Linked DNA regions of Homo sapiens: all the other regions are linked to region 1. Evidence: fine-mapped expression QTL. A gene starts in region 1. Each other region holds a variant in brackets. All regions are shown on one strand. Distances are from middle to middle. Region 1 holds the start of ADAM8 (ADAM metallopeptidase domain 8). Region 2 overlaps TUBGCP2 (tubulin gamma complex component 2). Region 3 overlaps PAOX (polyamine oxidase). Region 4 has its middle 21 kb from the start of FRG2B. Region 5 holds the start of MIR202HG (MIR202 host gene).

What was found.
Region 2: its variant is fine-mapped to the expression of ADAM8 in whole blood (TOPMed, PIP above 0.99).
Region 3: its variant is fine-mapped to the expression of ADAM8 in whole blood (TOPMed, PIP above 0.99).
Region 4: its variant is fine-mapped to the expression of ADAM8 in whole blood (TOPMed, PIP above 0.99).
Region 5: its variant is fine-mapped to the expression of ADAM8 in whole blood (INTERVAL, PIP above 0.99).

The regions. Positions count from the first base shown.
Region 1 is chr10:133,274,312-133,280,274 of GRCh38, reverse strand. It overlaps ADAM8 (ADAM metallopeptidase domain 8), which reads left to right and starts at 3,407. Exons shown (of 23, transcript NM_001109.5): 1 at 3,407-3,503; 2 at 4,688-4,791. The coding sequence starts at 3,458. It overlaps TUBGCP2 (tubulin gamma complex component 2), which reads left to right. Exons shown (of 18, transcript NM_006659.4): 18 at 374-1,640. The coding sequence ends at 509. RefSeq lists enhancers at 1,383-1,462, 1,953-2,002, 3,317-3,964, 4,968-5,227, 5,265-5,914 and a silencer at 3,158-3,717.
Region 2 is chr10:133,296,531-133,302,493 of GRCh38, reverse strand. It overlaps TUBGCP2 (tubulin gamma complex component 2), which reads left to right. Exons shown (of 18, transcript NM_006659.4): 3 at 2,381-2,509; 4 at 2,891-3,067; 5 at 4,383-4,542. Among named protein-coding and RNA genes, the nearest start is that of TUBGCP2, 9.4 kb to the left of the region's middle. The variant C/T (reference allele first, on the strand shown) is at 2,546.
Region 3 is chr10:133,381,619-133,387,581 of GRCh38, reverse strand. PAOX (polyamine oxidase) reads right to left here. Exons shown (of 7, transcript NM_152911.4): 3 at 5,923-5,963; 4 at 3,370-3,622. Among named protein-coding and RNA genes, the nearest start is that of PAOX, 5.3 kb to the right of the region's middle. The variant G/A (reference allele first, on the strand shown) is at 3,436.
Region 4 is chr10:133,603,261-133,609,223 of GRCh38, reverse strand. No RefSeq gene overlaps it. Among named protein-coding and RNA genes, the nearest start is that of FRG2B, 21 kb to the left of the region's middle. The variant G/A (reference allele first, on the strand shown) is at 2,646.
Region 5 is chr10:133,244,366-133,250,328 of GRCh38, reverse strand. It overlaps MIR202HG (MIR202 host gene), which reads left to right and starts at 2,444. Exons shown (of 2, transcript NR_108079.1): 1 at 2,444-2,538; 2 at 3,279-3,850. MIR202 (microRNA 202) reads left to right here and starts at 2,709; the gene lies at 2,709-2,818. RefSeq lists enhancers at 1,522-2,036, 2,553-3,067, 4,636-5,488, 4,820-5,963 and a silencer at 3,153-3,272. The variant C/T (reference allele first, on the strand shown) is at 3,102.

The sequences.
Region 1 (5,963 bases):
GGGGTGATGGGAGCCCCAACTTTCTGGGGCCAGGAGAGAAGAAACCTGTGTTTGTGCCTTTGAGCAGGACTGAACAGGACTGAAAACCTTCCTGTGGAAACATTAGTTAGGAGCGTGCCTCACCCTCACCCCTGCAGGGCCTCTTATGGTCTCTGTAGCTGAACACTTCCCCATGGTAGGAGCAGGGCTGCTCAGGACGGACCCGCAGAAGGAGTGTGTGCCCCAGCTCCACTGTCCTTCCTCACCCCTGCTGCCCAGCACGCACCCGCAGAAGGGGTGTGCACCCTAGCTGCACCGTCCTTCCACACCCCTGCTGCCCAGCATGCACCCGCAGAAGGGGTGTGCACCCCAGCTCCACTGTCCTTCCTCACAGGCTTGACTTCAATGGTTTCTACACGGAGCGCCTGGAGCGCCTGTCTGCAGAGAGGAGCCAGAAGGCCACCCCCCAAGTGCCTGTCCTGCGGGGGCCCCCGGCTCCTGCACCCAGGGTCGCAGTCACCGCACAGTGAGCCCTGGCTGTGACAGGAAGGAAGGGTGTGGGGTCAGCAGGGACTGGTGCAAATGGGTCCAGAATTTTCAAATCGAATGCTCTGTGTTCTGTCTTTGCAGTTTAAATATAAAGCAGGAATGATTGACTCAGCTCACTTTGTTTCTCAAGGCGCTGGGTTTCGTTTTATAGAAGCTGCCCAGGCAGGGTGGATGTCTCCCTGGATTTGCTAATCTGTTTGCTTTTTGAAATTACACTATCACCTTTTTGGGTGTTTTTGGCCTCAAAGTGGAAATACATGGTGTTTAAGCCAGGAGCAAGCAAAGATGCATGTGGGGTAAGATCCAGGCCTGGTGTCCACATCTTTCCGGGTGAGCTGGGGCCGGGCTTCCTGAGGTCTGTCGGAACCGGGACAAGCCTCTGGAAACGGTCAGGGAGTTGTGGAAACCCACCGGGCATCGGGTGTCGGGTTTGCTTTGGCCCCAGAGGCAGCCCCGTTCCTTCTCCTGAGGACTCACCCGCCTCCACGACCCTCCTCCTGCTGCTGCTCCAACTGGTCCAGGGCAGGAGGCCACAGACAGGGCCCTCAGGCACCCTGGGAGCCCACACCTCCCCCTCCGTGGGAGTGGGTCGAGGGGCAGGCTCTGCTGCTGGCTGGAAACCCCACCCCGCCCTATCCGGTACCGCCTTGTTACGTAGAACTTACTCAGCAGACTGACACCCAATCCCCCTCGGGCGATCATCTGCCCTGTCTTCCCACCTCCAGGGCTACAGTGGGCAGCACCGCCATCCCCAGTGTGACAGGGCCCTGGGAGCCTCAGGGCTGCCCGGCCAGGTTGGTCTGCTCTGGTTACATTCTGGCCAAGCTGCCCCTTCCTGCTGACCTGCATGTGTATTGTTGTCACCTTCAGCTCTCAGCACCTCGGCCCCCTTGGGCAGTGAGGAAGGGCCCTGGAGGCGAGGTTGGGAGAAAGGATAGCTAGAACAGGATCCTGCGGGGAACAAGGGTTGTGGGCAGCTCTCACCCGGGGCTGCCTCACTGAGAGCACCGCCGAGTGGGGGTGGGGGTGTCCAACTCTCCAGCCACAAACCGCTTCCTCCTTGTCTGCAGGCTGTGCAGGTCTGGCCTGTGAGTAAACACATTTATCAGCAACCCAAGCTGTCAGTCTCAGTGTTGTGCAAATGCCGGACTGGTGAGCAGAGGAGCCTGCTAGCTTTCCTGCCTGGCCCCGAGGCCCAGAAACCCCTGATCTTGTGTCCTGGGGTCTGGGAAGCCCTGGGCCTTGAGAAGTGGGGTTTGCAGGTGGTGATAGGAGGAGGGGAGGGAAGCCTCCAGGGCTGTGGGGTTCAGGCTCCCAGACCCCCCGGCACCTGCTGAAGAGGAGAGCTGTGTTCTGTGGGATTGGGTGGAACTTCCTCAGCGCGGGAGGAGCCTGTTCTGGCCCAAGCTGGTCCTGTCTTTTTAGGAATAAATCCCTGGTAGCTCAGCGTCGGCAGGGGCCTTGCTGTGCCTCTGATGTGGCCAGCGTGCCGCCTTTGCACTTTGCTGTTGAGTAACTTGCACCATGAGGTCAAGGAAGGGAAGTGTGATTGCCAGCTGGCCATTGTTCTATAATAACAGGGTCACCTGCATGAGCTCAGGCACAGGCCAGTATCCCCAGCCCTACCTGGGAGCCTCTCGGCAGCCTGGGGGACCTCGTCCTGTGCCACACAGGCAAGCGGACACACCCCCAGGCAGCAGAAGTCACCTGCGGCCCAGTGCCAGCCCTTGCTTTCTTGCTTTTCATGCCATTCACATTAGGGTAAGAATGGCTTTGAGACAAAATGTGACAGCATCACTCACGCCAGCTTAGATCCTCCGGGTTCCCTGTCCTCCCAGGATAACGTCCGAGGCCCCGGCCTCTTCTTGCCACTGCCCCTTGACCTCTGTCCTCTGCCCCTAGGCCCGTGCAGTTCCCTGACTCGCCCTGCCCTGGTGCCCTCTCTCCAGGCAGGACTCCCTCCAGCCCCTTGCTGGCCCTGCCCTGCCTCTCCCCAGGGAGGCCCTGAGGCCCCCCCCCCCCATGTGATCTGTCAGCAGCGCCCTGTGTGGTCATCTGAGCTGCCTTTCCTGCCACCACCACTGTTCCCACTCCAGGAGGGCGGCCTGGCTGTGAAAGCCCCAGGGAGGGGTCCTGGGTGGACCGTCTGGGGAGCTGTGGTGTCAGCCCAAACCTGCACCCTCGAGGCTGAGCCCACCACGGGGAATGTGGTCACCAAGGGCAAGCACGCTTGGCCGCAGGCCTGGAGACGCCGGAGCCAGGCCACGGTGGGCTGCTGCAGGCTTTGGTCCACGTCGGCCAGCGTCAGCTGCTGTCTGGGGATCTTAGGCTAGGGACGGCCCCTGCACCTGCCATCACCTGGGCTGGGACCCCCACCTAGGGCTCCCCCTCCCCACTTGGACGCCTGCGGGCCCATGCCTATCCCACTCCGGTGAGGCCTCAGCCTGGTGGAGGGGGCGCAGGCTTGGGGGGGAGGGTGGCAGAGCTTCCCACAGGGCTGAACCTATGCCCACAAAGCCATGACTTGCCCCTGCCTGAGGCTTTCTGTTCCCCAGGAAATCAGAGACCCCCTCTCCTGAAACCGCCAGGCGGCCCTCACAAGTCCCTTCCCCTCCAGGACCTGCCTGGCGCCACCTCCTTCCAGCCGCCGGGTCCTTCGAGAGGCCCCCTCTCGGGGCTCTGGCCGGACTTGGGACAGGCTGTGCCTGAGTTTCCTCACCTGTGCAAGGGAGGATGCTGGATTGTGGGGAGAGGGGAAACGGACCCCGCCCCCAGGTGCCGCGCGCCCCGCCCCTCCCACCGGCCGAGGGGCCCATTGGCTGCGGGGCGCCGGGGCGGGGCGCGCGGAAAAGAGCCTCGGGCCAGGAGCGCAGGAACCAGACCGTGTCCCGCGGGGCTGTCACCTCCGCCTCTGCTCCCCGACCCGGCCATGCGCGGCCTCGGGCTCTGGCTGCTGGGCGCGATGATGCTGCCTGGTGAGTGGTTCCAGGGAACCGTCCCGGGCGCAGCGCGGGGCAGGGTGGCTCTCCCCGCAGGACGCGACGCGGACCCCGAGCCCCTGGCCTGCTCGCACCCCGCACCCTGGCCCGGCTTCGGGCTGGTCCCTGGGAGCGGGCCATCAGGTGCACAGTGGTCTCTGGGTGGAGAGCCCCGGGCCGGGGAGGCCGGGGAGGTCGGAGGGAACCTTCAAAGGTGAACTGTGAGAGGGAAGTCCCGCCTCTGAGCTTGTTAGTGGGGTCGGGGCCGGGCCAAGCAGGACGCTTCACCTGCTGCGCGAGGCGCCCTGGGTTCCTGGGATTCACCTGTGGGGCTACCCACCCCCACTATTTAGCCGAGGAGGGAAGGGAGGGCAGACAAGCTGAGGCCTGGAGTGCAGGGGTGTGGGCTGAGGGGACCCGTCTCCTGCCTGGGGGAGGACATGGGGCTGCTGACCCTGGATCCCACCCCTGCTCCTGGAGTGACTTGGGCTGGGGTGTGCTGAGGAGCTTCAGGCTGGAGGCCGGGTTGCTTCCCGCCAGTTTCCTGGGCAGATAGGGGCTGGCTGCTCCCCTGCTGCCTCTCCAGGTTGGAGATGTGGTCATGGAGACACGTCCACTATTGTGTTTTAATGGGAGCAAAGGGTCCTGGGGTTGGTGGTCTCCGAAACCCTGCCCATTGCATGCTGGGACCCTGCCCTCTGCTCTCGGATACCAGGGAGTTTCCAGTTCTTGGGAGGTGAACAGCCTCCGGGAGGCACTTCCTGCTCCCCAGTTAGATGCGATCAGATGATCAGAAGAATGGAGGAGGAGAATGGAAACGGGCAGGTCGGCGGCCCGAGTCCTCCTCCCTGGGGGGAAGGTTCATCCTTGCCCTCGGGCCCCTCCAGAGATCTGAGACAGCCTGGAGACCTGTGGAGTCACTGGCACCCGCTGGCACCCACAGCGTCTCTGAGCACTGTGTGTGGGTGCTGCAGGACACAGGCCCACCGGCCATGCCTGGGGGCGCTCCTGGGGTCTTTTAGGCACAGAACCCTCACTTGAGTCTTTGTCCCAGAGCTATCTGGTGAGTTCCCCAGGGGAGGGTCAAGCCCAGCAAGAGACAGAATCTGAGGGCCCAGGAGGCCTCTGGGAAGGAAACCTGCCCCCCGGCCCCTCATGCCTGCTGACCCTCCCTCCTGCAGCGATTGCCCCCAGCCGGCCCTGGGCCCTCATGGAGCAGTATGAGGTCGTGTTGCCGTGGCGTCTGCCAGGCCCCCGAGTCCGCCGAGCTCTGCCCTCCCACTTGGTGAGTCTAAGCTGGCCTGGGGAGGGTCCCTGGCTGGCCCCTGAGCCTATTTTTGTGAAAGGAGCTTTAGCTTACAGAAAGTGGTGAGAGGCCAGTGGGTGTCTGGGGCTGCCCTGTACAGCTCTAGCCCCCTGGGGCCCATCTCCGTTCCTCCCTCCAGCACTGCCTGAGGGCTCCCAGCCTCCTCGTTCCTTCAGGAGCTCTATGGACCCCTGGAAGGGAGCAGGGGCAGGTTGTGCTGGCCCCGGGCCCCTCCCCAGTTTCACTTGGCGAGGCTGATAAGCCAAATTCCTCTTTGAGAAGTGACGCTGGCTCACCGCAGAGTTGACACACCTTCCTGTGTTGGGGGGGGGGCCTGGCGGGGGTTTCCCAGGGCTAGAAACTGAGAATGCCCCCCTCCCCGACTGGGGCTGCCCGAGGGTGATTCCTGAAGCCTGAGTGGGTGGGTGTGCACACATGTGCACGGCATATGCATGTGTGCACCTGTTTCCAGGGAGGGCAGTTCCGGCCCCAGCCCTGTCCTTACCTCAGCATCCGGGGAACCTACTACCGACCTGCCCGCTGCCCTGGGCTCATCCAGCCGGTGGCACAGCTAAGGCTGTCCCAGAGCTCTGCAGGCCGAGCCCCAGCCTGCACATGGGGGCTGGAGATGCAGTGGTCCAGCAGGAGGCTCTGCAGGCACCACCAGGTCCGGCAGCTGCTGGAAGGGATGGGTCCTGGAGGCAGGCAGCTGTCGCTGGAGGGGCCTGTGCGTGCTATCCCCGCCACCCACCTCCTTTGCTGCCTGGCTGAGGCTATGCCTCCCCCACCCTATGCTTTCTCGGGGAAGGGGCATTGTCGTTACCCATGCGTGGTCAGATGGGGAAACTGAGGCCTGGGAGGACCGAGGAGCACCGTGTCCTTCCTGTCTACCCAAGTGCTGGGCTCCGCCGGTCGCCTTCAGCACAGCCCCGTTCCCTACCCTCCACCCTCCACCCCCCGCCCCCCACCCTCTGCCCTCCGCCCCCCGCCTCCACCCTCCACCCTCCACTCTCCACCCTCCACCTTCCACCCCCCACCCCCTGCCCCCTACCCTCCACCCTCCACCCTCTACCCTGCCTGAGGCTGTGGACCCTCCAGGATGGAGCCTTGACCTGGGGCTGGAGGCCGGCACCCCTTCCCCCCCAGCTGAG
Region 2 (5,963 bases), 22 kb before region 1:
CAGGGTGCAGGGTGAGCGCCACCTCTGGTGCAGGGGGCAGGGTGAGCGCCACCTCTGGTGCAGGGTGCAGGGTGAGCGCCACCTCTGGTGCAGGGTGCAGGGTGAGCGCCACCTCTGGTGCAGGGCTGTGCGGGGTGCAGGGTGAGCGCCACCCCGGGGTCAGGATGGTGCAGGGTGAGCACTGCCCCTGGTGCAGGGCTGTGTACCGTGCAAGATGCAGGGTGAGTGCCCGTTCCTGGGTGGCCTCAATGGTACCGGCAACGATGGCAGACAGCACTTGGTCTGTGTGTGTGTTCAGCTCTGATTCTCCTGACTCCCCCCAGCAGCTCCTGTGATTCACCCCACTGTGCAGATGAGTAAATGGAGGCCTATGGAGAAAGCTGGGCCTAGAACCCTCCCTCTTCCCCACTCTGTCCCCTGCAGCCATGAGGTGGGAGAGTCCTGACATGTGCATTCCTGTGGATAAAAAGGGAGGGACTGGGCCAGGCGCGGTGGCTCACACCTGTAATCCCAGCACTTTGGGAGGCTGAGGCAGGTGGATCACAAGGTCAGGAGATCAAGACCACCCTGGCTAACACGGTGAAACCCCGTCTCTACTAAAAATACAAAAAATTAGCTGGGTGTGGTGGCGGGCACCTGTAATCCCAGCTACTCGGGGGGCTGAGGCAGGAGAGTGGCGTGAACCCGGGAGGTGGAGCTTGCAGTGAGCCGAGATATCGTGCCACTGCATTCCAGCCTGGGCGTCAGAGTGAGACTCTGTCTCAAAAAAAAAAAAAAAAAAAAAAAAAAAAAAGGGAGGGACTGGTATTAACCATGTTGAAATGCCTTTAAGGTATTATTTCTTTATTCAGATAATATGTAATTCAGAAGTATAGATTTTCAGTAAAAATGATTTTGAATTTGAAGTCTATTTTAAAAAATACATTATGAAGCTTCAGTTATTTAAACAGGTTAACAATGGCACAAGGATAATTAGGCAAATTAGCCGAGTGGAATAGAGACTTGGGGACACCCATGTTTAGTTCATTCTGAAGGAAGCATTGTAAATCACTGAGTAAAACATAACCCCTGCTGGGCACGGTCGCTCACACCTGTAATCCCAGCCCTTTGGGAGGCCGAGGCGGGTGGATCACCTAAGGTTGGGAGTTCGAGACCAGCCTGGCCAACATGGAGAAACCCCATCGCTACTAAAAATACAAAAATTAGGGCGTGGTGGTGCGTGCCAGTAATGCAGCTACTCAGGAGGCTGAGGCAGGAGAATTACTTGAACCAGGGAGGTGGAGGTTGCGGTGAGCCTAGATCACGCCATTGCACTCCAGCCTGGGCAACAAGAGCGAAACTCCGTCCAAAAGAAAAAGCATAACCCCTAGGGTTGCACATAATAACAAATTCCAGAGGGAACATAGTGAGGTGTATACAATGAACGCATAAACTACTGCGGGGAATACAGTGAGATGCAGACAATGAACGCATAAACTACTGGGGGGAAAAGGTAAGTCGCTACTCTCCAGTACAAACCTGAAGAAGCATAAAAGGGAACACAGTGAGATGCATACAATGAACGCATAAACTACTGGGGGGAAATGCAAGTTGCTACTCTCCAGTACAAACCTGAAGCAGCATAAAAGGGAATACAGTGAAATGTATACAATGAACGCATAAACTACTGGGGGGAAGTGTAAGTCGCTACTCTCCAGTACAAACCTGAAGAAGCATAAAAGGGCGGGCGCAGGGGCTCACACCTGTAACGCCAGCACTTTGGGACGAGGCAGGTGGATGGCTTGAGCCTGGGAGTTTGAGAGCAGTCTGGGCAACATGGTGAAATCCTGTCTCTAGAAAAAATTAAAATAATACGAAGAAGCACAAAAGGAAAGGAACCATAATGGGAAATACGGATAAGGTTTGTTTTGTTTTGTTTTGAGACAGAGTCTTACTCTGTCACCCAGGCTGGAATGCATGTGGCACGATCTTGTCTTACTGCAGTCTCAACCTCCCAGGCTGATGTGATCCTCCCATCTCAGCTTCCCAAGTAGTGACCACAGGCAAGTGCCACCACGCCTCGCTAATTTTTGAATCTTTTTGTAGAAATGGGGTTTTGTTATTTTGGCCAGGCTGGTCTTGAACTCCTGGACTCAAGCAGTCTACCAGCCTCGGCCTCCCAAAGTGCTGGGATTACAGTCATGAGCCACTGCCTAGCTCAAAACATGGATAAGTTTAACACAATATGGAGATGAGTTTTGTTAGTTTATTTCAGAGGGATAATTATTTAACCTACCCAATTTAATTCCATTGGCTTATTGTGTTCAATTTTCGTAAAGGTTTTTTTTTACAGTGCTTTATTAATTACCGTCATTAAATCACTCATGTTTGTGCTTTTGAGGTTAAAATTGCAGAGTTTTCTCGTACTCCAGAAGACTTTCTAAAGAAATATGATGAACTGAAATCTAAAAATACAAGGAACCTTGACCCGCTGGTGTACCTGTTGTCAAAGCTCACGGAAGACAAAGAGGTAGGTGCCCATGCCACGTGCCACACTGCGCCCGTA[C/T]GGCCCATGTTGGGAGTGGGGTCGCGTCTCCTGCTCACTCCACGCCATCTTCCTGTCAGCTCTTCCTCGCTCACACCAGTAACGCTTCTAGGCCATGTAGGAAATTTTTGGTGAATCAGAATGAAAGATAACCCATGTTGGGTGTAAACATGAGAAGCAGCCTCTGGGGCACTTTGAGCTTCCCGCATGTGTCACGCTCAGTTCCTGCCTGTCGCACGCGTCGCTTTGCTATTAATGGGTGCCTGTCAGGGTTGGGGAGCCGTCCTGGTGGTGTCGTCCCTACTCTCCCCCTATGGCCAAAGAGGTGCTGGCCCAGTGTGAACACACAGTTTTACATGTTTTCAGACTCTGCAGTACTTACAACAGAATGCAAAAGAAAGAGCTGAGCTTGCAGCCGCTGCTGTGGGCAGCAGTACCACCAGCATCAACGTCCCTGCCGCGGCCTCCAAGATCTCCATGCAGGAGCTTGAGGAACTGAGGAAGCAGCTTGGCAGCGTGGCCACAGGCTCCACGCTGCAGCAGGTACTGCGTCCATGGCTGTCCACAGGCTCCATGCTGCAGCAGGTCCTGTGTCCGTGGCGTCCACAGGCACCCACACTCAGTGCTGTGCCGGGCCCCTGCTGGAAGGACATGTCTCTCTGTCATTTATTGAAAATGAATCCCTTAGAGAGGCCAAGGCTTAATGCTTGATCATGACCTAGCTCTATATGTTTAGTTTTTTTTTTAACCAAGAATTCTGGACCACAAGAATCAATAGCAGCAAGGTTCTGACCCACGTGGGAGTTGTGCTGCCAGGTGGCCACGTGACTCTGAGCCTACCCAATCCTGACTCCCCATTTCCCTCCTCCAATTTTTGACAATTTTGAGGGAATGCTTTCAGATCATTATATTTTCAAGATTCTCGAAAATACAGTAATTTTTATTATTCCTTCTGTATTTGCTACTTGCTCTTGGTTTTGATTTTATGCCCTACCCTGGTCTTTTGACGTAAGTCATCTCCCAGTCTCTCTCATTAGAGCTGCCACGTTCCTGCCTTTGTGACCTTTAAACTCCCTTTGGAGCTGTGTCCCTGAGGCGTCCTAGCCTCCTGGGTGCGTGTTGAGTGCAGCGGCTCCCAAGGACCCAGCCGGTTCTTGCTGGGCACGTTCTGTGCTGGACATGGTGCTAGGCCTCTGTCCACGTCTCCCTCAGCCGTGGCAGAAGACTGGGTCTTACTGCCACGTGCAGAGACAGTTTGCATCTGCCCGTGTCCCTGACCAGCCCTGAGTGGGAGTCAGTGCTTCCGAAAGCTGGGCCAGCCCAGGCCGACCCCATCAGCCTCTGGCGGCCACTGGCGCAGGAGGGCAGGCTCTCTGACCACATGTCAGGAGCCATCCTGTCACGCTGGGGCCCTTCTCCGGCAGGGTAAGGATGCATGTCTGTTGCTGAAGCCTGTCTTCACCCATCAAGTGGTGTTCAGACCTAGTCACTGCCAGAAAGAAGCAATTCAGCTTGTTCACAGGGCGCCCTCCTTTGAAACAGCGGCTCTGTGCCTAGGTGCACCCTCTCCCGTGGTTCCCACTGCTGGTGCTCATGTTTTCCCAGGGGGGCCCTTGCAGGACCTGCACTCCTGAGAAGAGGGGCTAGGGCTCCCCATCTGCCCTGTTGTCCCCAGCCCCTCACGTTGTGGCAGGCAGGGATGTCGAGGCGCATTTCATTTCTATGTGGTTGACCCTTTGTGGGTGTTGAATTGAGTAATCATCTTTGCCGTAGATGCTAGCTTCTATGCATGTCTTTAGTTGAGTGTTTGCGCTAAAGTGTATCTTTCTGGTTTTGTTTTTTAAAATGTCCTTGCTAGTCTCTGGAACTTAAAAGAAAGATGCTTCGAGACAAGCAGAACAAAAAAAATTCAGGCCAGCACCTCCCCATCTTCCCAGCATGGGTGTATGAGAGACCTGCCCTGATCGGGGATTTCCTGATTGGTGCTGGCATCAGCACAGACACCGCTTTGCCGATAGGTACGTGATGCGTTGATTTCCGGGCTCTGCCGATAGGTACGTGATGCGTTGATTTCCGGGCTCTGCCGATAGGTATGTCATGTGTTTATTTCTGGCCTCTGGGCAGGACACTTTGCAGGCCCAGCCCTCCCCCGGGCCTGCCTTTCCTCAGGTTGTGAGGCTCAATGCTGACTGGCTGCCGCCTCCATATTCCCATCCCAGGATGGCAGCAGAGAACGGCTCACCCGGGTCCTTGAGGGTTCTTCTCCTGTCCCTTCTGCCAGAGCTGTGGGGCAGCCTGCAGCAGGCCCCTCCCCAGCCGGCATCCTGGTGCCCTGGTGCAGACCTGCAGGCATCAGAATTGTGTGCAGCACTTATTTCTGAACAGCGATTCATGACTCCCATAGATTCTGTTACAGCAGTATTCTCAGAGGCCTCTTAAGTAGTGTTCGTGTAAACAAGATGCGGGTGAGACCACACAGTCATTTCAAGACGTTGTTATTGGGGACCTGGGATGTGTTCATCTGTCACAATTCATGGGTACATTTTTATTTTTATTTATTTTTAGTTCTTTTGAGATGGAATCTCGCTCTGTCGCCCAGGCTGAAGTGCAGTGGCGTGATCTCGGCACACTGCAACCTCCACCTCCCAGGTTGAAGCGATTCTCCTGCCTCAGCCTCCCAAGTAGCTGGGACTGCAGGCGCCACCACGCCTGGCTAATTTTTATATTTTTAGTAGAGACGGGGTTTTGCCGTGTTGGCCAGACTGGTCTCGAACTCCTGACCTCTGGTGATCTGCCCACCTTGGCCTCACAAAGTGCTGGGATTACAGGCATGAGCCACCACGCCTAGTCAAGTACATTTTTAGATTGAAAAATGAGATTTCACAAACTAAGGACAGAGCATACCTGCTTATCTTGCCCCATCCCCGTTAGTCCAAACTCAAGAGGCAGCATGGAGCGTGGTCTGCTTCCCCACTACTCACGGCTCTGCAATGTGGGCACCAAGGGGCCAACCCTTGCCTTTGCCGGAAACCCTGGAGAACGGTGACGTGAAATCCACCTGTTTTCCTCATCCCCAAGCAAACAGAACCCTGCTGTAAGTTAATGAAAAGTATAGAAAAACCCTGCTGTAAGTTATGAGAAGTATAGAAAACCATGCTGTAAGTTAATGAAAAGTATGGAAAACAGTCTACTTCGGCCAGGCATGGTGGCTCACACCTGTAATCCCAGCACTTAGGGAGGTGAGGTGCGTGGATTCCTTGAGCCCAGGAATTCGAGACCAGCCTGGGCGACAGGACGAGACTAGTCTCTACAAAAAATGTGAAAATTAGCCGAGTGTGGTAGCGTGCACCTGTAGTCCCAGCTACTCAGGAGGCTGAGGTGGGAGGATCACTTGAGCCTGAGAGGTCGAGGCTGCAGTGAGCTGTGATCGTGCCACTGC
Region 3 (5,963 bases), 110 kb before region 1:
AGTCAGACAAATCATGGTGTGGTATTTGGTGACATTTTCTTGAAAATGAGCAAAGTGTCTCTATCACAGGAAAACAACTAACAAATAGTATTTATAGACAATGACAAAGTTTAAGCTCTCAAGCAAAAACTGCAATTTTAGAAAAGCTTGTTTCTGCCACCAACAGCATAACAGCTTCCCAATCCTGAAAGACTTTTCTGAGATCAGTGGTATGTTAATAAATTTGATTTTTTATATTGTATAATGAAATGTATCAACATTTGGAAGACTACATGAACCAATATATATATATTTTATTTTTTTAAGACATGGCCTCCCTCTGTTGCCCAGGCTGGAGTTCAGTGGCTTGATCACAGCTCACTGCAACCTCCGCCTCCTGGGCTCAAGCAATCCTCCCACCTCAGCCTCCCAGTAGCTGGGACCACAGGCACGCACCACCACATCTGGCTAGCTTTTTGTATTTTTGGTAGAGACTGGGTCTTGCTATGTTGCCCAGGCTGGTCTCGAACTCCTGAGTTCAAGCCATCTGCACACCTTGGCCTCCCAAAGTGCTGGAATTACCGGCATGAGCCACCAAGCCCAGCCTAGTATTTTCCAATGACTAAAGCCATGGATAGATAAAAGATCCATTTAAAGTGCAAGACAGACAAATAGATTTCAGTGTCACAGAAGACAAAAAATTCACTGGTGTGCTCTCCAATTTCATATTTGGCCAACCTTTAAGGAATTACTACTACATCTTGACTTTTGAGGTAGTATCAAAGAATACCCACAATCATTTCAAAAGCTATTTAAATATCACTCCTTTGGCCGGGCGCAGTAGCTCACGCCTGTAATCCCAATACTTTGGGAGGCCAAGGTGGGCAGATCACTTGAGGTCAGGAGTTCGAGACCAGCCTGACCAACATGGAGAAACCCCATCTCTGCTAAAAATACTAAATTAGCCGGGTGTGGTGGTGGGCACCTGTAATCCCAGCTACTCAGGAGGCTGAGGCAGGAGAATTGCTTGAACCCGGGAGGCGGAGGTTGCAGTGAACCGAGATCGAGCTATTACACTCCAGCCTGGGCGACAAAAGCAAAACTCCATCTCATAAATAAACAAATATCACTCCTTCTTCCAACCACATATCCATGTAGATCCACATTTTCTTCCTATGTTTCAACCAAAATAAAACATCACCACAGAATGAATGCAGAGGAGGCCTGAGAACCCAGATGTCTTCTATTAAGTGTAACACTGAAGAGTTTTGCAGAAAAGGCCGGGCGTGGTGGCTCACACCTGTAATCCCAGCACTTTGGGAGGCCAAGGTGGGCGGATCACTTGAGGCCAGGAGTTCGAGACCAGCCTGGCCAACATGGCAAAACCCTGTCTCTACTAAAACTACAAAAATTAGCTGGGCATGGTGGCACACACCTATAATCCCAGCTACTCGGGAGGCTGAGGCAGGAAAATCGCTTGAACCCAAGAGGCAGAGGTTGCAGTGAGCTGAGATCACGCCACTGCATTCCATGCATTCCAGCCTGGGTGACAGAGAGACCTTGTCTCAAAAAAAAAAAAAAAAAGTTTTGCAGAAAAGACAAAACTGCTGCCACCCTTCATTAAATTTTAAGAAAATATTCATTTAAAAATGTTATTTATGCTAACATAGAATAGGTTTGTTACTATCATCTCAAATAATAATTTAATTTATCATGTGGTGACTGGGTGCGGTGGCTCATGCCTGTAATCCCAGCACTTTGGGAGGCCGAGGCGGGCGGATCACGAGGTCAGGAGATCGAGACCATCCTGGCTAACACGGTGAAACCCTGTCTCTACTAAAAATACAAACAATTAGCCGGGCGTGGTGGTGGGTGCCTGTAGTTCCAGCTACTCAGGAGGCTGAGGCAGGAGAATGGCGTGAACCCAGGAGGTGGGGCTTGCAGTGAGCCAAGATTGCACCACTGCACTCCAGTCTGGGGGACAGAGCGAGACTCCATCTCAAAAACAAAAAAATATTTTATTTATCATGGGGTAAATTTACAGATGTGACTCACATAAACAAAAGCTCTTTGAGATCCCCAACCCTTTGCAGGTATATAAAAGGATGGGACAGCTACCACCCCGTGCCACAGACAGGGTCCCACCAAAGCACTCAGGGTCCCACTGATGTCCTAAGCAAGAGAGCACAGGAGGTGGGGCTGGGCCTGGAGCAGGTGGCTCTACACACAGTCACCCACCCGGCTGCCCACCAGCAACCCAGGCCTATCTCAACACCTGGAATGCCAGTTTTCTTTCTTTTTTTTTTTAGACAGAGTTTTGCTCTTGTTGCCAAGGCTGGAGTGCAGTGGCACAATCTCAGCTCACTGCAACCTCTGCCTCCCAGGTTCAAGCGATTGTCCTGCCTCAGCCTCCTGAGTAGCTGTGATTACAGGTGCGTGCCACCACACCGGCTAATTTTTTGTATTTTTAGTAGAGACGGGGTTTCATCATGTTGGCCAGGCTGGTCTCGAACTCCTGACCTCAGGTGATCCACCCGCCTCAGCCTCCCAAAGTGCAGGGATTACAGACATGAGCCACCGCGCCTGGCCGAAATGCCAGTTTTCTCTTCAGTGTGAAGGAGACACACAGGCTTCCCCCGTCACAGGTGCAGGGCTGGTCTGCAGCCTGCAGCCTCCTGCTCCCAGTGGATGGCAACTATGAACCATCTGGCAGGCATGCCCTACATCCCACCCCATCCCGGGTCTTTCAGAACAAGAACTTGGTGCCCCCTCCTGCGGCATCTCTCAGTGGAAACGTGGAATTATTTCTGCCATCTGACTATATCAGGCTGTCTTTGTGTTTTAATCTTGCTGGAAAAGTCAGTCCCTCCATCCCCACATCACTCATGGGATTAACTCCTGAATCGCCACGTGGTCTAGATATGCTGTTTCTAAGAGGGCCAGCCCATACAAGGGAGCCCTTCCTCTGTGGGTCTCCCATTCCATTACTTCTCGGAATGTTTCCTTCAATTATTTCATCCCATTTAAGTATTGTCTCCCCACGTATGGGCAGATGGTGTTTCAAAGTTCTTCTGTATCTACAAGCCCCAGCTCCCTGCAACATTCCAGTAAACACGTTCCCACTGACTGAAGACTGAGCCTGCCTGCAAGTCTACAAACACATTCTGGGCCCTGAGGGACGCTGACAACCCGCATACAGCAGGGCGCCATCTGTCCCCGCAGGGGTCAGGCCCAGGTGCAGCCAGCACCTGGTGGGGGGGCGCTCATGGGAACCCTACCCATTAAACCCCCTAGAAATACCCTGCAGTGAACAGACACACTGCTGCGTCCTCCATCAGATGAAGGCCTATGAGCCAGCCACTCGCAGAACTTCTCAGGGAGCAAACGTACGCAAAGGCAGGCAGGACCACAAAGCCAATGAGCTTCCGGAACCAGGCGTCCTGTAGCTCAGGGGCA[G/A]CATCCTCCAGGGGCGACGTGTCCTCCCACACCAGCTGGATCAGCTGGCAGTCTGGCTCCCAGAAGGGCTCCTCAAACTCCAGGAAGATTTTGTTGTTGGTCCCAAAGCCTATCTTCCTGATTGCTTCTGCCTTCTCAGCCGGCAGGGGAGGGTCAAAGAAGGTGTCCAAATGTTCCCTAAGAAAACCTGGAATTCAGAATTGGACTCTTCTTACATCACATAAAGCCCTCCACGGAAGTCCTGTCTGTCCAGACCTTGGATCCAGCAATTTCCCCTGCTGGTGTTTATCCTACAGACACATTCACACAAGCAGTTTTACTTTTTTGTCCTTGTTTTTGAGATAGGGTCTTGCTCTGTTGCCCAGGCTAGAGTGCATGCAGCACCATGATCAGGGCTCACTGCAGCCTTGACCTCCCTGGCTCAGTCCTCCCACTTTGGCCTCCCAAACTGCTGGGATTACAGGCGTGAGCCTCTGTTCCCCACCTTTCACACAAGTGTTTTTTGTTTTTTTGTTTTTTGGGTTTTCTTTTTTTTTTTTTTTTTGAGATGGATTCTCACTCTGTCGCCCAAGCTGGAATGCAACGATGCCATCTTGGCTCACTGCAACCTCCACCTCCCAGGTTCTAGTGATTCTCCTGCCTCAGCTTCCCAAATAGCTGGGATTACAGGCACCCACGACCAGGCCCAGCTAATTTTTCTATTTTTAGTAGAGATGGGGTCTTGCCATGTTGGTTAGGCTGGTCTTGAACTCGTGACCTCAGGTGATCTACCTGCCTCAGCCTCCCGAAGTGCTGGGATTACAGGCGTGAGCCACCGTGCCTGGCCAACACAAGTGTTTTTAAGTGCACATGTAAAACTGCATGAAATAGAAAAAGTGAAGGCCACCTAAATTTCCATCTATGCTTATGAAATAATGACAAGAAAACACTGCGTGGCAAATTAACCCGCTCCTTTTTTTTTGAGACGGAGTTTCGCTCTGGTCTCCCAGGCTGGAGTGCAATGGCACAATCTCGGCTCACTGCAACCTCTGCCTCCTGGGTTCAAGCAATTCTCCAGCCTCAGCCTCCTGAGTAGCTGGGACTACAGGCACCCGACGGCTAATTTTTGTGAACTGGCTCCTTATAAACAAAATGCTCACAGTTGTAGCAATGTATCTACTGACAATGTCCCCGTGATCAGCACTTAGCAGGGCCTGCAAGCACTTACTCCAAACGTGAATGAACAAAGCCACTGGAGGGAAACAAAAAAGACCGCTGTAGATCTATGTGTGCTGATTTGGAAACACTGACAAGTTCTATTAAGAAAAAAACAAAAAACAAAAACAGGCAAACTGAGCAGCAGATTTTTGGTTTTTTTTTTTTTCTGAGACAGAGTCTCACTCTGTCACCCAGGCTGGAGTGCAATGACACCATCTCGGCTCACTGTGACCTCTGCCTCCCCCGTTCAAGCGATTCTCCTGCCTCAGCCTCCCAAGTAGCTGGAATTACAGGTGCCTGCCACCATGCCCAGCTAATTTTTGGATTTTTAGTAGAGACAGGGTTTCATCATGTTGACCAGGCTGGTCTCGAACTCCTGACCTCAGGTGATCCGCCTGCCTCAGCTTCCCAAAGGGCTGGGATTACAAGCGTGAGCCACCGTGCCCAGCCAGCAGCAGATGTTCATGTGTGGACGACGACTGCATCTCTGGGAAACAGCAATGGGGTCTCAGTGCTCATCCCTGCCCCGGGGAGGGCAAAGCCACCCCTTGGAGACAGGAGTTAGGGCTGCGGAGGCTCCTGCTTTTCATCACACACCTGTCAATCACACCTAGATTTCCAAGTGAGTGCTGGCAATCGCTAGCTTTGTGAACTTGGGCAATTAAGTGACTTCTCTCTACTTGCCTAGATGTTCAAATCTGTCATATGTGGGACAATGACAGACACCTCCCAAGGCTGCCTGAGTCAATGAGATAACTCAGGCAGAGACCCACGGCAGCGTGAAACCCGTGGGAAGCAAATGTCCAGTTGACAGCAATTATCCTAGTAACTCTGTTTTCAACCATCTCCACCTTTTATAAAACAGCTTCAAACCACCTCTACTCAAGGACAGATCTAAAGCACCAGATCTAGAATTAAACAGAATTATACACACGGCTCCTTCAACAGGTCACCCCAGGCCTGACCTTCAGACCAGGCCTTTCATGCCTTTTCCTGTCTGCAGCAAAGTGCGGTGTGGTTAATCTCCAAGGCCGTCGCAACCCTAAACGGTTACCTCCAAGCGAGCAGGACGCATACTTACTCGCGTTTTTTCTTACGGTGAAACCCTTAATTCCAAAGCATGTAATTGCTACAAAACATAACAGAATCATTCCTTCCACCTATCTGGAACTTACTAGAACGAAAATGTGAGCTTCGTACACAAGCAAACGCCCCAGAGCCAACTGAGGCAGGGTAAGGGCAGAGGCGGGGGCACTTGGGATGGGGGTTTGGGCTGAAAACCTGACCTACCTAAGGGCACGGTGACGATGACATGGTGCGCCGGGAACCGG
Region 4 (5,963 bases), 330 kb before region 1:
AAGTTTACAAGTGTAGAGTTTCCAATGGTCTTAATCCATTTAAGAGGATAGATTGCAGACAACTCATCAGCTGCCTTGTTTAAAATATCAGTGCCAGGGGGCAGGGCCAAGTGAGCCTGAGAGGCTTCAAAAACCTGCTCTTTCAGTTTTACAATATTGAAGGTGAGATTTTCCTCTCTGCCCTCTAGATGGCGTTTAATTCTTTCCCATTGGTGTTCTGTCTCATTGTAACTATGAGGAGTAATGCAAAAATCGGATATATTCCAAACACAACGCATTTGAATTCTAGTTTCTAAACTTAGGATGTGATCCCCCATCCAAATTACTGTCTGACAGAGATCACTGATTTGACTATCTTTTGATCTATTTGGGCCTGAGAGTTCCATAATTTCGTAGAATTCTTTTGCCATTTATCAACAAATTCAACAGTCTGCACAGATGAGTGTAAAGCCACACCAGCTACTGCAGCAGTAGTGGTAACAGCAATGAGGCCAATTATAGCAAATACAAGAGCAACTGTGAATCTTTTTGAATGGGATAACAGGTTTTTAAGAATCTCAGTTACAATATGAATGGATGGTGATGCATCCCGTGGTCTATTTAGAGACACAGGGATCCAAACTCCTTCTCTGGCTCTAATTAACAAGAAAGTTTGATTTTTATCAAAGGTTGAGTTAATGCAACTAAACAAGTGACATTCGGGGCATGTGATAGAATGGGTATTTATGTCAAGAATAACATTTCCTATTGCTAACATAAAAGGTGGCTGGACACAACTTTGAATCCAAAAGGTCTGCCACAGACAGTACTGCCAGCATGGCCACCTTTAACTTACTAGTTGTTTTTGGTTTGTTCTGTGCTCTGAGGTTGGCCTCTGCCATCTGTGCCAGTTTGACTTGGCCCCATGTTGGAAGATCCACCTGGCGAGTATTCACAGTCTTTTTCTTTGTCTCTGAGATGTTCATTCATGCCATCACTTGTATAGGGAGCTCTGGCTCTTCCCAGGGTCCTCTCTTCCTGGTGTGGCTCATGATGGATCTTCAGATGTTTGGTGGGCACCCACAGACAACTGATTGTCACCTGGAGAGACAAAAGCAAATCCTCTTCCCCATGTAATTATTTTTCCTTTTTCCCACCTTTTTGTATGTGCATCCCTCCACCATATATCTTGTCCAGCCTTTTATTTTCCTTTTGTCCTGTCAGATGTTGTTCAGCTGCAGTCATGGGTTGATCTTTTTGTAAATTTAAAATAAAGCTAAGTGTAATTGCATATGTGGGGATTTATATGTCTGATTTCCCCCTTTTTGTTTTTGTATTTGAGTTTTTAAGGTATGATTAGCTCTTTCAACTATTGCTTGTCCTTGTGAGTTTCATGGAATTCCTGTAGTATAAGTAATATTCCACTGCTGAAAAAATGCAGTCATGGCTTTACTGCAATACCCTGGGCCATTATCAGTTTTTATTTTTTTTGGAATTCCCATAACTGCAAAGCAAGATAAAAGATGTCTTTTAACATGAGCTGTAGCTTCCCTGTTTGACATGTGGCCCAGATAAAATGTGAATAAGTATCTACTGAAACATGAACAAAAGACAATTTTCCAAAGGCGGGAACATGTGTTACATCCATCTGCCAGATGGAATTTGGAGATAAACCTTTAGGGTTAACTCCTGCTCCTTGATGTGGTAGATGTAAAACTTGACAGGCAGAGCAGTTTCCTTAGCCTGTTTCCATGATAAATTATATATTTTTCTCAGACCTGTGGCATTAAGATGGGCTAAAGAATGGATTGTCTGTGCATCATCAAAAGCTGCAGAAACCAGTGCATCTGCCCTTTGATTAAGTTTAGTCAAAGGGCCTGGGAGGTTAACGTGTGCTCTTATGTGAGTGATATAGAAAGGGGAGTGTCTTTGTTGTACTGCTTGCTATAAAGAATGAAATAAAAGATTAAGTTGTTCATCAGTCACATTGTGAATTAAAGCACATTCAATATTTTGTGTGGCTTGTATCACATAAGCTGAATCAGAAACAATATTAACTGGCTGTTTAAAGGTTTTTAACACCATAATTACAGCCATAAGTTCAGCCCATTGAGCAGATGTGAAGCCAGTTTGAAAAACTTGTTGTTGAGGTCCTACAAATGAGTCTTTTCCATTACCAAACCCGTCAGTAAAAACAGTAATGGCCCCTTCAATAGGGGCTTTTTGAGTAATGGAAGGCAATATCCATGATGTTAACTTAAGAAACTGGAATATTTTGAATTTAGGATAATGTCTATCAAGAACACCAATAAAACCAGCCAAATTAACTTGCCATTCCTGGGAATTAATATAAGCTTGCTGAATTTGTTGTTTGTTTAATGAAACTATAATCCGATTTGGATCATATCCCATTAACTCTGTTGTGTGCAGCCTTGCTTGTCCTACTAGTAAAGCAATTTGATCTAAGTACAGGGTGAGCGTTTTAGTTGCATTGTGAAGTAGAAAAAGCCACTCAACCAGATCATTCTGTTGAACAATAACTCCTGTAGGTGAACGTTTAGTGGGAAAAACTAAAAACTGTAATGGCTGTGTAGGGTCAATTCGTTTCACCTGTGCTTTTTCTTCAATTAATTGAAGTTCTTCTAATGCTTCTTTGGATACAGAGC[G/A]TTTACTATTAAGCTCAGAATCACCTTGTAAGGTAGCAAAGAGGTGAGACATACCATAAGTAGAAATGCCTAATGTGGGATGAATCCAATTAATATCTCCTAAAAATTTTTGAAAACCATTTAGAGTTTTTAAATTATCTCTTCGAATTTGAACCTTTTGAGGCTTAATATAACTTTATTCTACCTTCACTACTAAATATTGAAAGGGGGTAGAAGTTTGGATTTTATCAGGGGCTATGATTAACCCTATTGCCATTACAGCCTTTTCTAATTGTTTGTAGCATAACATTAATTCCTCCCTAGTTTCAGCTGCACATAAAATATCCATGTAATGGATACTATCACATTTTAAAAATTGTTCTCTAACTGGCTTAATAGCTTGTCTGACATAAGTTTGACAAAGAGTTGGGCTACTTAACATGCTTTCTGGTAATACTTTCCAATGGTATCTGTCCACTAGTTCTTTGTTATTTACAGCAGGAACAGTAAAAGCAAATTTTTCATAATCTTGGGTAGCTAAAGGAATAGTAAAGAAGCAATCTTTTAAATCTATCACTATGAGAGGCCAGTATCTAGGAATCATAGTTGGGGAAGCCAGCTCTGGTTGCAGCATGCCCGTGGGTTGAATTACAGCATTAATAGCCCTTAAAGCTGTTAACATTTTCCATTTACCTGATTTTTTCTTAATAACAAGCACAAGAGAATTACAAGGAGAGAAAGTAGGCTCTATGTGTCCCTTTTGCAATTGTTCCTGCACCAATTCTTTTAAAGCCTCCAGTTTTTCCTGTTTCAGCAGCCACTGCTCTACCCAAACTGGTTTGGCAGCTAACCAAACAAGAGGAATGGGAGCCAGAGGCTCAGCAATGGCCTCTCCTAAAAATGATACCCTAATCCAGTTCGATCTGTGTGCCCTTTTAATTCTAAAGGTTCTGGTTGGCCATTTTCATTTTTTCCTAGTACTTTCCCCAGGAGATATCCCATTTTTCTCATCATTTCTTTACTGTTATTACTATACTGATCCACAGGAATAGATATTTCAGCAACCCATCATTGTAATAAGACTCTACCCTATAGATTGACAGGAATAGGTGTAAATGGGTTGAATTGTCCCTTCTTGGCCATCCAACCCTTGGCATGGCAAAATTAAAGAACTTTGAAAAACTTCTGAGGCAGTCTCTATGCCAACAATACCCACTGAAGCCTTTTCTTTGGGCCATTTCGGGGCCATTGATTTAAAGCAATAATAGAGACATCAGCTCCAATGTCTACTAATCATTCAAAGTCTTTACCTTGAATGGTTATTGTACAAATAGGTCTTTTGTCAGACACTTGATTAACCCAATAGACAGCCTTTCCTGCTGGATCTGTACTACCAAAGCCTCCTGTTCTTTTTACTGTACTACTTCCTAGCTTGGTGTAAGGTAATAGTAATAACTGAGCAATTCCTTCTCCTGAGGAAGCAGACACGGAGTTGAGGAACTAATAACTAATTGAATTTCTCTGGTATAATCAGAATCAATTATTCCTGTATGTACAGTGACACCTCTTAAATTTAAACTAGACCTTCCAAGCAATAGCCCAACTGTTCCCGAGGGTAAAGGGCCCCTAACTCCTGTGGGGACCTTCTTTGGTGGCTCCCCAGGATGTAAGGAAATGGGAACTGTGCTGCAAAGATCTGCAGCGGCACAGCCTGCTGTGGCAGGGGACAATTATTGTACATTTGTAACGGCACTGACTGTGCCGGATTCACCTCGGTTTGTTGAGGGACCTGAGGCGGGCCCCTCTTCCCATTTCCCAAAAAAGGTTGCCCATCTTTGCTAAATTTAGAATGACACTGATTTCCCCAGTGATTGCCCTTCTTGCATCAGGGGAAGATACCAGGACTTCTTTGTTGCTTACTGGTAGTATCCCTCGCCTGTTGATTTCCTTTTTATATTACTTTTTTTTGTGTGTCCAAATTGCCCACAATTAAAACAAGAGCCTGAGAAACAGGGCATATTTTTCCCACCTTTAGTCCAGTCATAGCTTGAGCTAGAAGAGTAGCCCTTATGTAAGTTACCCCCAATGCATCACAAGCCTTAATATATTCAGCCAAATGACCTTCCGTCTCATAGGTTTAATAGCAGCTTGACACTCTATATTGGCATTATCATATGCAAGGAGATGTATTACAACATCTTGAGCTGTTCTGTCAGTTACAGCTTTATGCATAGTCTCTTGGAGCCGAGCAATAAAATCAGTATATGGTTCTTTAGGTCCTTGTTGGACAGAACTGAAAGAAGGATATTTTTCTCCTGTAACATTTATTCTAGCTTCTTTCAGTCGTCCTCAGGTGTCCTCTGATGATGCATCCTCCACCTCCACACGCTCTAGTGTTCCTTCACCAGGGTATTCATAGCACCATGTTGGGAGCTAGGAATACTGGCATGATCAGACCCAATACCAGGCTGTGGGGGCTACGAAGTCCAGCAGAGTCAAAGGAATGAGAAAAGACAGGTTAAGAGTGCATAAGATGGGTCCAGGGGGCCAATGCTGGTATGGAGGCTGCAAAGGCCCTGAGCTCTGGGATCCCATACTATTTATTGGTGATCAAACAAAGAAGCAGGTGGTGAGGATGTGCAGATGTGGGGGTAGAAAGGTAGCGCTGCATCAAGCATAGCTGTGACGGTTTAGCATTTCCTTTGAAGCACATGGAACATGCTCTGCTACTTGAGATAATAGAGAACATGTTCTTCCAACTCAAGATACAATCAATTTATGATCCTGGGAGAGCAAGAAGCAAGGAGCCAGCAAGTCTGGACACATTCCAGAGGCTATGAGGGTTTTGACGCCCTGAGCCCTGGATTCCATTCAAGCCATGAGGGGTTTTATGCCCTGGGCTTAGACTGTGGTGCCACAGGGCAGCCTTCCACCCTTTGGCACAGAGCTTGGTGTTCCAAAGGCCACAAGGGGGTTTAGACCCTGGACCCAGGACATGTTCCAAGACTTTTTTACATTATGACAGACAAGCTAGTCCTGGCTCGGCTCTTCTACCAACACCATGCTGCTGGAGTGAAGGGAAAAATAAAGATATTCTCAGATGAAAGAGAACTAAGAGAATTTGTTGCTAGCAGACTTACCCTTCAAGAATGGCTAAAGAAATCCCTCCAAACAGAAATAAAATGAAAACAGAAAGAACATGAAAACAGCAAGACAGAATTTTCATAAAGGAAAATAATGAAATTGGTAAAAGGAGAAGTATACATGATAGAATATTCTTCACTTTATGTGTTTCTTTAATCATGTTTTATGTTTGAAGTAAAAGTTATAATACTACCT
Region 5 (5,963 bases), 30 kb after region 1:
TCTCTCTCTGTGTCTGCCTCTCTCTCTCTCTCTGACTCTGTCTGTGTCTCTCTCTGTGTCTGTTGGTCTCTCTGTCTCTGTCTCTCTGGCCCTCTGCCTGTCTCCTCCTTCCCTCTTGCAGAACCGAGGTCAGGAGCCCAAGGTCAGGGTTTGCATTATGTGTTTCCCAGAAGCCTCGCCGGGCAGCTGTAAACGGGGAGAAACGGGGAGAAACAACGGGGAGAAACAGGGAGGGCTGATGCTGGGCGGAGGCCCAGGATGGGGGGCTCTGCAGGGGCCTTTTGAGCCCAGGCCCCCGAAGTGTGATGCTGGGGCTCTCTGTGTAGGTTCTAGGTGTCTGGAGGAGTGGGGCCCCTCCCCTGCTAGCCCCCCAAGGACTCTTCCTCGGATCCTCGGACCTCATGGAGGTGGGGGACCATGGGCGTGTGTGAGTGAGGGTAAGCATAAGTGTGTGAATTGTGCATGCGTGTGCGGATGTGAGCGTGCCTGCAGGAGTGAGTGTGGGTGAGCCTGAGTGTGTGAATTGTGCATGCACGTGTGTGTGGATGTGAGCATGCCTGCAGGAGTGTGCGTGAGCCTGAGTGTGAGCATGCGTGTGTCTGAGCTCCACGTTCCCTCCTCCCCCAGAAGGCAACCCTCAGCCTGCCAGCAGGTGGATGGAGCCCAGCAGCCCCCCGTGCCCACTCTGGGCCTCGTTGTGGGGGACCAGCCCTGAGCAGGGCCTGTCCCCAGCCCCATGTCCCCACCAGGAGGGCTTGTGACCGACTGATGTGCTCCCCCCCACCCCTCTGTGGCCATCGCTGGTCGTGACAATCACCTGCTTGGCCTGGCGTGCAGATCAACGGTTTGCACAAGGTGGGGGCAGAGGCTGCTCCCATGGGGGGTCTGCAGAGTGGCCTGGCAGGTGGCTGGGTCATCATCCATCGTCCATCATCCCCATGGTCCCTATGGCTCCTCCTGCCCAGCAGGGCCCACTCGTCCTTCCCCAGACGGGGCTCCTGGCCGCCTCGGGGGCCATCAGGAGGGCGCTGGACAGTCTTGCAGCCCCACCTGGCCCCTCATGCCCCCCACGCCCCTCCCCACTCAGGGGACAGGAGACTCTCGCGTACAACAGTCAAGGCCCGCTGCACCTGGGGGGTGTGTGGGTCCATTGTGTGCGTGTCTGTGTGTGTCTCTGTGTACATCTGTGTCTCTGTGTGTCTACATGTCTGAGTGTGTCTCTGTCTACATGTCTGTGTCTCTGTGTGTGTCTATGTGTGTCTGTGTGTGTCTCTGTGTGTGTCTATGTGAGTCTATATGTGTCTACGTGTGTCTATGGGGGTCTCTGTGTGTCCCTGCCGCATGTGGGTGCTGCGTCGGGTCAGTCCTGAGACTCTGGCCCTACAGATCACAGGTGCTGGGGCCAGGCGCCCGCACGGGCCTGCCTAGCGACGTTGAGTCTCCCCGAGGACATGGTCACTGAAGAGGCCTCTGAGGCCTCAGCCTTGTTCCTTCACCAGCCTCCACTTGCCTACGTCCTGGGGAGAGACCGCTGGCTGGGGTTCAGAAGCCCTGTCCCTGGCCACCTGTGGAAGCCCTGTGCCCTGGCCTCCTCTGGGCCTCTTCCTTGTGTCCTGAGCCTGGGACACAGGGACAGCCCCAGACCTGCAGGAGTTCTGCTGCCTGCCTGGGCCCTTCGGCCGGGGGCTCCCTGGCCCTAGGAGAGGGTGTCTGCCTGCCTGTGTGGTCTCGCTCTGTGTGGGCAGCTGTGGGTCTGGCCAGCTGTCCCTGAGGGGCCCTCTCCCTCCGACCCTGCACTCTTGCCCCCAAGGCTGCAGAGCGTGGCCCCTCTCCACGTGCTCGCGGGCTCTGTGGCCCGGGGAAGGCTCTGGGCCTCACTGGACCAGTGTCCGCCTGATGCCGTGAATCCTCAGGGAGCCCCAGCTGTGGAGGCCGCCCCAGGCCAAGCAGGGCCACCTACCCTGGGGGTGGGGTCTGGTTCCCAGTGGCCAGGACAGTGTTGGACACGCTGGCTGGGGGTTCTGAGAGTCCCTGTGAGCCAGGAGGCTGCGGGTGCAGCCCAAGGTGCTGCTTATTGCTGAGCTGGGCAGGCCCAGGAAGGAGAGTCGGCCCCTTCCCTGGACAAGCGATTCTTGCTCACGTGTGCTTTCCGGGCCCCTGACGCAAGCAGAAGCGCGTGGGGAGATAAGGGTTGGAGGAGGCGGGGGGACAGGCTGGCCCCATCCCAGCTCCCGGGCCAGCAGCCCCCGGCCCACAGCCCTCGCCGCCCGCCCGCCCGGCGGGCCCTGGCTCAGCACTCTTCTCACAGCAGGTCTTTGTGCCCCAATCTGGCAGGTGCGGGGGTGCGACGGGGTCCTTGGCACAGAGCAGCCCTCTGGTTGCATGTGACAGCGGCGGCCAAGGTCTCCCCTGCGCATAAATGTGGAGCTCGCTCGGCAGCAGCAGAACTCCCGGCTCAGAGAGTTCTCCACCGCTCCTCCCAGGCTCACGAGGCTCACGGGCTACCCAGCGCCAGCGGCCCAGGAGGCTGGACCACAGGTAAGACGAGGCCCAAGGCCTGCCTCTGGGAACTCGGCCCTGGCTTGGCTCTGCCCTCCTCACTCCCACAGGATCTCCGTGCCCACCAGGCCTCAGTCCCGACTTCTCCCTGCTGCCCGGCACGGGACCCTCCCCCAGGACAGCCACCTCCCAGTGCTGAAGAGCCGGCCCGCCTCAGAGCCGCCCGCCGTTCCTTTTTCCTATGCATATACTTCTTTGAGGATCTGGCCTAAAGAGGTATAGGGCATGGGAAAACGGGGCGGTCGGGTCCTCCCCAGCGGCACCTGCACCAGTGCACCTGCACCTGCTCCAGCAGCACCTGCCTCCTGACTTGGGACTCCACCTGCTTCCTTTCTCCTCGGCCGGGAGCCCCGGGGCTTTGACCCCCACATCCTTGGGGCAGAAAGGGGCCAAATATTCTAAAACAAGGGAAACGTGGATGTGTGCTTTTGTGTGGGTTCTGGAAGTGTCTGGGGAGGACGTGGTCCAGGCCTCTGCCCTGGGTTGATCTCTGCAGCCCCTGAGCTGGGACCCAGGATGCAGAGAGGAGGGCTGGAGCTGGG[C/T]GGTGCTCTGTGACCAGTCTGACCGGAGTTGGGGGTGGACCCATTACAGGAGGTGGCGGGAGGGACAACCTGGGCTCTGGGGCCGCCTGGTGGTCGGGGGAAGTGGGGCGGGGTGCCTGGGATCTGGGCTCTGGCTGGGAGGATCCACAACTCATTCTTTGGACATTTTCTTTGCAGACTACGAAGCTGCACCGTGTGGGGCCCACTTTTTATACAAGCGGGTGGCGGTGGATCCAGGCGCAGACGGGAGTGAGGCGTGGCGGAGACGCGTGCACGCTGGGTCTGTGCACTTTTGCTGCTGCTGCTTTTTTTTTTTTTTTTTTTTTTTGAGATGGAGTCTCGTTCTGTCACCCAGGCTGGAGTGCAGTGGCGCGATCTCGGCTCACTACAACCTCTGTCTCCCGGGTTTAAGCGACTTTCCTGTCTCAGCCTCCCAAGTAGCTGAAACGACAGGCGCCTGCCACCATACCCGGCTAATTTTTTTATTTTTAGTAGAGATAGGGTTTCACCTTGTTAGGCTGGTCTTGAACTCCTGACCTCATGATCCACCTCACTCGGCCTCCCAAAGTGCTGGGATTACAGGCGTGAGCCACAGCGCCCGGCTGGCTGTTGCTTCTTAACACCTTTATTACTTTTGTAATCATGGGTATGAGTTGATTTTCTGGTCAGAAATTTCAGTAGAGCTAATTTCATTTAAATGTGTGAGATGTGGTAAAGTTTTGACAATAAATACAAATTTTGACAAAGCAGCTCTGTCGTGCTGGTCTCCTCTCGTTCACGGTGGTTGGACGTCACATTAGTCACGTGTGGACTTGGGGGAACTTAGTTAAAAATGCATAAACACGGGGGGATGAAACGGCTCCTGGGGCCTCGGTTGGGGGCCTGGGCTGGGCACCGGTCTGGGGCCACCCTTCTGATGACCAGAGCCTGGGACCGGCCGGCAGTGTTGGGAGAGCCCAGAGGGACGGCTTGTGAGGGTGGGGGGCACTGGTCTGTCCTGGGCGGGGGCCCCGCAGCTTCCAGGCCTCCACAATGGCCAGGGTGGGACTGCGGTCTTGACTTCCCACTGAAGAAAAATGGACAGGGGGTCCCTCATCAGCCCTGTTTAAAGAATGACAGTCGGCTGCTGTCTTAAAAGGAGGCCTGAACGGGAGTCGGGGAGGCCCCACCCTTCAGCCAGAGTCCTCGTCAGCCGGCAGGGCCACGCCCAGGTCTTTGAAGGCCACAGCCTTTATCACCAATGAGCCCAGCAAATGGAGCAATGAGCTGGCTGAGAGGCCCCCAGGCCGGTTATCAGGGGCTGCCTCCCCAGGCTGCGCCTCCTCTCCAAGCCTAGCACTAATCTCATCTGATAGTCACCTCCCACCTCCCTCACAGCCCGCAGCTGGGGTGTCCGAGGGGAAAGATCAGGCAGCAGGCAGAGGGGTGGGGTGCTTCCGGCCGGGGGGCCGCAGGCCACATGTGGAAGGGCAGCCACGCCCCCCACCCCAACGAGCTCGGCTGCTCCCCCTGCCCCCTAGGGAACGGTGGAGGTCGGCCCTGCTGGGGAGTCTCTTGCAGGCCTTCGAGTCACTCTCCACAGGACACCTGAACATAGGGCTTTAAAGCTGCACAGATAAAGCAGGTATTACCTCGCTGTGCTGTGCGGACATGCAGCAGCAGCTGTTACTCCAGACAGTGTCGGCAGAATGGGGATGCAGGCACGGCTGGATCCAGGGAGCCAAAGGCTCTGCCTCACTCTGCGCTCGTACCCCGCCTGGCTCCGTCCCTCCGCCTCACTCTGCGCTCGTACCCTGCCCAGCTCTGTCCCTGCAAGGCTGCGGTGTAATTAACAGCACCTGCTGGGCTGTGAAAGGAGAGGCCCCACTCTCCAGTATGGTGCCCATTTCCCCAGAAGAGCTGTGGTTCTGAGGGCTATGCCCTCCCTGGGATCTGGGCTGGGTGAGCTGGGCCGTGTGCCCTCACCTGTACTGCAGGGTGGGCGGCTTGCTGGGCAGGGAGAGGGATGAATTCCCCCAGGAAGATGGGCAGGGCTCCTGCCAAGACCCCACCAAGGTGGCTGTCCAGGCTTGCCAAGACATGCCCACGTATCAGGTCCAGCCACTGAGACCCTGCTGAGGGCATTGGAAGGAGCACAGGGGCCAGGACGGGGCTGGAAGGCGTCCCAGAAACGGAGGCCTCCTGGCCACAGCCCCCCGGTCCTGAGGCCGTTGTCCTGTGAATGGTAGGTGGGGGCTGAGGGGCACCATGGGGGAGTGGCTCACTGTGGCTTCTGTGGACAGCCAGGCTGGGAATGAGGGTCCTCCTGGCCTGGGAACAAGAGGAAGCCCTCTGAGACCCTGCCTTGGGGAGTACTCAGGAGCCCCAGGAGTCCCCTGAGAAGCTGACCGCCACTCTGGGGCATGAACGGAACCTTTCTGAGGTGGGGGTGGCAGAGCCTCCCAGCCAGGCTGCAGAGGCAATGGGGGGAGGGCCAGCGCTTCTGGTACTTACCTTTTTTTTTTTTTTTTTGAGTTGGTGTCTTGCTCTGTTGCACAGGCTGGAATGCACTGGCACGATCTTGGCCCACTGCACCCTCCGCCTCCCAGGTTCACGTCATTCTCCTGCTTCAGCCTCCAGAGTAGCTGGGACTACAGGTGCCCGCCACCGTGCCCGGCTAATTTTTGTATTTTTAGTAGAGATGGTTTTCACCATCTTGGCCAGGCTGGTCTCGAACTCCTTACCTCATGATCTACCTGACTCGGCCTCCCAAAGTGCTGGGATTAAAGGTGTGAGCCACCGCGCCCGGCCCAGGTGATTTTTCTTTGACTGGGGGCTGTGCAGGGCCCCACCAAACACCCCTAAAGGAGGCCAAGGCCTGCT